Homo sapiens: one gene and its partner. The protein of the gene in region 1 purifies or fractionates together with the protein of each later gene. This does not show direct contact. Each region holds a gene or a part of one and is shown in the gene's direction. Other genes may lie near its edges.

What was found.
Region 2: the proteins of TBRG1 (region 1) and UBR3 purify together in Homo sapiens (affinity purification with mass spectrometry; one large-scale study listed by BioGRID and IntAct). This does not show direct contact.

The regions. Positions count from the first base shown.
Region 1 is NC_000011.10:124,629,166-124,632,987, forward strand, and holds part of TBRG1 (transforming growth factor beta regulator 1), read left to right. Parts: intron 1-1,222; coding exon 1,223-1,320; intron 1,321-1,579; coding exon 1,580-1,690; intron 1,691-2,109; coding exon 2,110-2,252; intron 2,253-2,927; coding exon 2,928-3,073; 3' UTR 3,074-3,822. UniProt on the Homo sapiens protein: Acts as a growth inhibitor. Can activate p53/TP53, causes G1 arrest and collaborates with CDKN2A to restrict proliferation, but does not require either protein to inhibit DNA synthesis. Redistributes CDKN2A into the nucleoplasm.
Region 2 is NC_000002.12:169,830,252-169,834,073, forward strand, and holds part of UBR3 (E3 ubiquitin-protein ligase UBR3), read left to right. Parts: intron 1-3,822. UniProt on the Homo sapiens protein: E3 ubiquitin-protein ligase which is a component of the N-end rule pathway. Does not bind to proteins bearing specific N-terminal residues that are destabilizing according to the N-end rule, leading to their ubiquitination and subsequent degradation.

The DNA.
Region 1 (3,822 bases):
TGAAATTAATTACACACAGCAAAATTAGCCGGGCCTGGTGGCGTGCGCCTGTAGTCCCAGCTGCTGGGGAGGCTGAGGCAGGAGAATGGCGTGAACCCGGGAGGCGGAGCTTGCAGTGAGCCAAGATCACGCCACTGCACTCCAGCCTGGGCGACAGAGCAAGATTCCATCTCAAAAAAAAAAGAAAAAGAAAAAAGAAAAGAAATTAATTGCTCATGGTTTTTTCATTTATTAGCTGAGAAATAAATATAAAACATTAGAATCTTAACCTGGCAAGGTATGCCATTGGTTGAAATAAGAAAACCACCATTGATTGAAACCACTCACAAGAGAATTTATTACTGACAAAATTGACAGATCTCTAAAATTTGACACGGTAAATTGAATCCAGTGAAATAATAACCACAGAAGAAAACTAACAGTAGTGGAAACTATACTCAGTAAAAATTGCTTTGACTTTTTTTAGAAATCAGTAGTGCTCGATATCATTCTAAAAAATTATACAGAAAATAAATTAATCCTGTTCAGGATAATTTGACTGAAGTAAACATTGAAGAACTAGAAACTGTTTAAATGAACTTTAAAACTAGTCAAATAATTTAATTGGCTAGATAGAACTTGTTACAGAAATATTTTCCTGGCAAAAAAATCATTGCGCTTTATAGAAAACTGGCCAAATAATTAAATCAGCTAGTTAACTTGTTACATTTGTTACAAAAATATTTTCTTGGCAAAAATTCCTCAGAATTAGTGTAATTTCGATGCAACAGTTTCTTTTTATTAACATAACCAAGATATTTTAACGTTCAAAATGAAAGTAAATACAATGAAATGGCAGTTTGCAGTCAGCCTGTTTCTCCTAGATCTTGTAAAATTGACTTAAAAGATTACATGGAGAGTGATCTCATTTGTTTTTAAAATACCATTTGTATTTGTACTTAAGGATATAAATAAGTGGATTGGAAAGGTACACAACAAATTAAACGCTCACTTTTGGAAAGCTGTCAACCAAGAAGGGTAGAACTGAAACAGTCAAAGGACTTTCTCTAGGTACTTGGATTTGTTTCAATTTTTAGCAGCCCTATAGGAAAGTATGTGTGTCCCTTCTGAAGATGGTATACGTCAGCTTCACGTTCCAGAGTAAAGAAATATTTACAGAGTAGTATGCCCCTCTCTCCTTCCTTCTTGAGGATTGATCTCATTGCTCGTTTGTCTTTCTCAGTTTGAAATTGTTCCTGAAGATGACCCCCAGAATGCCATTGTCAGCTCTTCTGCAGATGCTTGTCATGCAGAACTGCTCAGGACTATAAGCACTACTATGTAAGTTGACCAAAAGCTTGAAAACAGGCTAAAAGATCACTGTTGGTACAGTGAAACCTTTTCTCTTGCTTTTAATGGGTGGAGATACTTTATTTTATAGAAACCTATCCTGGATCCTCCTGACATTGTGCCAACTAGAGCCTCCACATTATCAAAGTCAAGAAAGCTTATCCTGTTTGTTCATACCACTATTCTGTTCTTAAATCCATCTTCATCTCCCGCTAAGCTCTCAAACTAAAATTATCCCTCTCCTGTTTAGGGGGAAACTAATGCCTAACCTGCTTCCAGCTGGAGCTGACTTTTTTGGATTTTCTCATCCAGCCATCCACAACCTGATCCAGAGCTGTCCAGGAGCTCGAAAATGCATCAAGTAAGTGTGATCAAATTCATTCCCTTGAGAAAAGCTCAGTGATCATCCGGCCAGGGACTGGCAGTTCCTACTTTGTTCACTGACCTTCTGTGTCCAAAGCCTGCCTGCTTCTCGACCAGTAGGGCTCAGTATTGGCCCCCTTAGCCCTCTGGACAGGTAAGCAAGAGCCAGGACTCCACTGTTCGCTGATTATTACTATTTTCTGTATGTACCATGACAGCAAAAGGGGTGGGAAATCTAGCAGACTAATTTGTCACTAAAGAGGCCTGCTTATTTCTTTTAGGTTTTTGTTAGCAAATATGTGTTTTAGATATATATGGGCGGAATATAAAGAAAAATTACCTGATCCCTTTAGTGATAGGAATGGGTATTTATGTCTAGCAGATAACTCTCAAGGGTGATTTCCCTTGATTCTGCAGTTACCAGTGGGTGAAATTTGATGTGTGCAAACCTGGAGATGGGCAGCTACCTGAGGGGCTGCCGGAGAATGATGCAGCTATGAGCTTTGAAGCCTTTCAGAGACAGATCTTTGATGAAGATCAGAATGATCCCCTTCTGCCAGGTATCTTTAACTTTACCTTTCTGGTTTGAAAATTGACTGTGTTTAGGCTACCTTCCCATCTTCACACATAGCCGAGTACCCTAAATATCTATGCATTGAGTGATAAAAGCTTTCATTGAATCAGCCTTGCGGAGTGCTGAGTTAGAGGGGGACCTGCGGCCTGCATAGCTTCCTAGATTACTCACAGATGTCATGGGGAGCACCTGCGATCATAGTAAGGCAGGGTACCCCAGAAACTAAGGTATCTCATTCTGTAACCTAAGCAAGACTGGAGCAGAACACCAGGGGAAAGTTTACTGTGCAGGGAATAACATTTCAAGTGAAGTCAGTGGGGTCAAGTCAAGGCCTTGGCCCTGCCTGTGTTCCATGAGTTCCTCCCACAAATGAGTGATCAAGGGTTCAGGCTTTGGGGTCATATAGGGAAAACTCTGGGTTAAAAAATGGAATTGAAATTCTCACTCTTTGCCTAATATACTATATAACCCTAGGCAAGTCACTTAATGTTTCAACCAGTTTTCATTGTAAAAGTATCTGTCCTATCTTAACAAAGGCAAAATTGAGCTGACAAATGCAAGGGTGTTAAGGAATTGATTGAAAGGACATGTATATGTCTGACCAAAACAGTCTGCCCAGACTCCCGAGCAGCAGTGGAACTTAAGGAATTGTTTTCTCCAGGATCCTTGGACCTCCCAGAGCTTCAGCCTGCAGCCTTTGTGTCTTCTTACCAGCCCATGTACCTGACACATGAACCCTTGGTAGATACTCACCTGCAGCACTTGAAGTCTCCATCACAGGGTAGCCCAATTCAGTCTTCAGATTGAACAAGAAGGGATCAGATGCCACATCGTTTTTGTCGTGATTAATTTAACTTAAACTAAAATTTTGGGTATATGAAAGAAGGCAGCAATTCAGAAGTAAAGAAGATACTAACGTATTTCATCATGGAAGGTCCTGTGGTGATGGTTTTCCCTGGGAAAACCTTCAGCTGCTTTATTTTTAGTAATAAATTTCTCTTGTCAATTCTGTTTACTTTCATCTTGTAATCGGGATGTAATCTTTTTTGCTTAGCTCTGCCTGAGGTAAAGTAAACTTCAGCCTCTTATAAACAAGAGTGATAGAGAGCTGCAGGCTGCTACAACAAATACCATAGACAGGTTGGTTTATAAATAACATGAATTTATTTCTCACAGTTCTGGATGCTGGGAAGTCCAAGTTCAAGGAGCGCAGATTCAATGTCTGGTGAGGGCCCACTTCCTAGTTCTTAGACAGCTGTCTTCCTGCAGTGTCCTCACGTGGTAGAAGAGGAAGGCAGCTCTCCGGGGTCCCTTTTATAAGATCACTAAGCCGGTTCATGAGAGGTCTGCTCTCATGACCTAATCACCTCCCAAAGGCCCCACCTCCCAATACCATCACATTAGGGGTTAGGATTTAACATGAATTTTGGGGACATATAAACATTAAGTCTGTAGTAGCAGCAGCTGACTAACGAGGGAGATAGGGAGATTCTGACAAACTTCTACTCTTGATTGTGATCCTAATTCAAGGAATATCAAGTCCCAGCCCCTGCAAC
Region 2 (3,822 bases), on another chromosome or scaffold:
GAGTCAGTGGGATAAATTCTCAAAAGTGTGATTTCCAAATTGCCCTCCCTAAGGCTTAGTACTAATTACTCTGTGAGACTGCCTGTTTTCCAACAGCCTCATCAACAGAGTAGTAGTAAAATTTTGGACTTTTATCTATTTGGTTAAAAGTGGCCAAATTCTAGCTGTTTTATGTGATTTAACTTATTTATTCTTTGACTCTGAGATTATTACTTTTATTATTCTCATTGTACAGAAGAGGAAAGTAGGGCAGAGTTAAAAACCTTGCTCAAGTTCACACAGGCAGTAAGCTAGGCATGCTGGCTCCAGGGCTCTGGAGCCAGACTAATCAACCATTTCTCTTTACTGCCCCTACTAAATAGCATTCTTACTGGTTTTTCTTTTCAATTCTATGTTTTATCTTTTTTTTTTTCCTTAATATGCTATTCTTATTTGGGCCTTTGTTTCTTTCTTTTTAAACTTTTTTTGTTTGTTTTGTTTTAAAGAGGCACATCAAAACAGGAGTTGGAGCAATCCTTTACTGATATTTAGACATTTTTACTTCTTGGACTGGGTTAGCATTTAGGAAAGCCTCCAGAGAACCTGAAGGTAGGAAATAACACTGATTCTTTCCTGACTTTTGGAATACAGTGGTAATTATCAGGTTGTCGTGGATGAGATGGAAGTCTGATCGCTTGTGATGCTTCAGTGTACTACCAGAAATATGTCAGTGAGTTTCTTTGAAGGTATTCATACAGTTTTAGGGCATCCAGGCTATAGACAGTCAACATCCTAACCTCATGGTATTTGCTTTTACTGGTGTCTCATAGGTAAGTATTATTTTCCCAGTCTGGCAACCCTCTATGAGTTGGTACATTATATATATATATATATATATTTTTTTTTTTTTTTTTTTTTTTTTTTTGAGAGAGAGAGTTTTGCTCTTGTTGCCCAGGCTGGATTGCAGTGGCACGATCTTGGCTCACCGCAACCTCTGCCTCCCGGGTTCAAGTGATTCTCTACCTCAGCCTTCCAAATAGCTGGGATTACAGGGATGCGCCACCACACCCGGCTAATTTTTTTTTTTTCTTGTGTTTTTAGTAAAGACAGGGTTTCTCCATGTTGGTCAGGCTGGTCTTGAACTCCTGACCTTAGGTGATCCACCCGCCTCGGCCTCCCAAAGTGCTGGGATTACAGGCATGAGCCACCACACCCGGCCGGATACATAATATTTAAAGATTTATTATTATCTTTGTCTGAAACCAGAGCTATTGCCTGTATGTGTCAGCAGTTGCCATGTCCAGTTTCATAAAGGGCAAGATTGAACAATAAACAGTATTGTGGCCATGCAATTACTCTGAATTTTTTCTAACTGCTTGGATTGGATAGAGTAATTTTCCTGGGCTATACAGCTAATTTACTGCCTCAAGAGAAATAGGTGATGTTGACCAGCTCTGCAACCTAAAAGACTGCCTCTGGAACCTTTTTAGAACTGGAAATCATCAACAGCTTGTAACAGTGTTCTCATGGGCAAAGCTGGACTACACTGGCATGAACAGAATGTTTGAACTTTTCTAAGTTTTTGGTATTTTAAAAACCCCTTTAGATTGCCAAAGATTGAATGTGTGTTGATTTTGGGGTTTTTATTCTAACTGCCATAAGTTTGTAAATTTCATGGTTTAGTCACTTTTAGAGGAAGGATTCCTTTTTTTCAGCTGTATTTGTGCTCTTAGTAAATGAGAATAAATCTTTCTGTGCCATAATCCTTTTCACCAGTGTCTGACTGTTGCCTGTAGGATGTTCTTGATTGGAGATGGAGAAGAATCTTGAATCTATCACAGCTGTATTTATATTTAATTTTCAAATTAGCAATTATAGAACTGTGGGGAGGATTTAGTTATTTTTGACTGAGTAGTATTGATATAATCAATGTGGCAGTATTAGCAGATATACAAACCAAAGGAAGAAAACAATTGAGGATTCATTTGTGGGATGAAATCACAAAGGCTATGGAAATTGTGTGCTAATAACTGTATGTGGCTGGGCGCGGTGGCTCACGCCTGCAATCCCAGCACTTTGGGAGGCCGAGGTGGGCAGATCACGAAGTCAGGAGATTGAGATCATCCTGGCTAACATGGTGAAACCCCGTCTCTACTAAAAATACAAAAAATTAGTCAGGCGTGGTGGTGGGTGCCTGTAGTCCCAGCTACTCGGGAGGCTGAGGCAGGAGAATGGCGTGAACCCGGGAGGCGGAGCTTGGAGTGAGCTTGGAGTGAGCTTGGAGTGAGATCCCGCCACTGCACTCCAGCCTGGGCGACAGAGCGTGACTCTGTCTCAGGAAAAAAAACAAAAAAACTGTATGTATAACTACAGTTTTGCCACTAGTGAGTAAGTGCAGTCATTGTCAGAAATGCTTTATGGGGGCCGGGCGTGGTGGCTCACACCTGTAATCCCAGCACTTTGGGAGGCCGAGGCAGGCGGATCACCTTAAGTCGGGAGTTCAAGACCAGCCTGACCACATGGAGAAACCCCATCTCTACTAAAAATACAAAATTATCTGGGCATGATGGTGCATGCCTGTAATCCCAGCTACTCTGGAGGCTGAGACAGGAGAATTGCTTGAACCCAGGAGGCGGAGGTTACAGTGAGCCAAGATCATGCCATTGCACTCCAGCCTGGGCAACAAGAGTGAAACTCCATCTGGAAAAAAAAAAAATGCTTTATGGGTGGATGAACTCAAAACAAAATAACCTGTAATGGAAAGTCTAAAATACACTCGTTCCTCAGTATATGGTATACATAGGAGACTGGTTCCAGAATACCCACCTCCCACCCACTCTTCAGGGTATACTGAAATGCTGCTTATATGAAAAGTCTGCCCTTCATGTATGTGAGTGTCAGATCCCATGAATTCTGCATTTTTGATCCATGTTTAGTTAAAAAAATCCTTGTATAAGTGGACCCTTGTAGTTCAAACTAGTGTTGTTCAAGGGTCAACTGTAATGTCTGACTAGCTGGTTTTGGGCTCTGATGGGATACTAACTGGAAACTGGGATTTTAAACATTTAGTTCTCAAATTTTGGTGCAGAGAATGAGGAGTTTCATGTTCTGTCCTATATTACAGATATTTTTGTCTCCTTGCTTGTTCTTCCTCACATATTCTAAGCTCCTTAAAAGATAAGGACCACATTTTGCTATTAGCCAGAGGCCAGCACCTACTAAGTCTCTTGTACTTAGGAGGTGTCAGTAATTTTGAATTAAATTGGATAAAAAAGTGGCTGCTATACCCAAAAAGTTACTGTAAGATTACATTGCTTTAGTTACTCATGAGGTGGCATTGATTATTAAATCCATAGCAGCTTTTTTCAGAGTGCTTTCATTCTTTTTTTAGTTTCAGAAGTAATACACATTGATTATAACATAAAAATAAGTGGATAAAGTAAAAAGTAAAGGTGCCTTTCTCCATCCTACCCCTCAGTAAGAAATTTCCTTTTCTTTTAAGGTTACTTATGTGTTTAAAAGAGATTAGTTATAATTTATCCAGCATTTCTAGATTTTTTTTTTTTTTAGTGACAGGTTCTCGCAGTGTCTCCCAGGCTGGAGTGCAGTGGTGTGATATCACAGCTCACTGCAGCCTCTACCTCCCAGGCTCAAGTGATCTCCCACCTCACCCTCCCAAGTAGCTGTGACTGTAGGCGCACACCACCACACACAGCTAAATTTCTTTTTGTATTTTTTGTAGAGATGGTATTTCACCATGTTGGCCAGGCTGGTCTTGAACTCCTGGCTTCAAGCAGTCTACCTGCCTCAGCCTCCCAAAGAGCTGGGATTATAGGCGTGAGC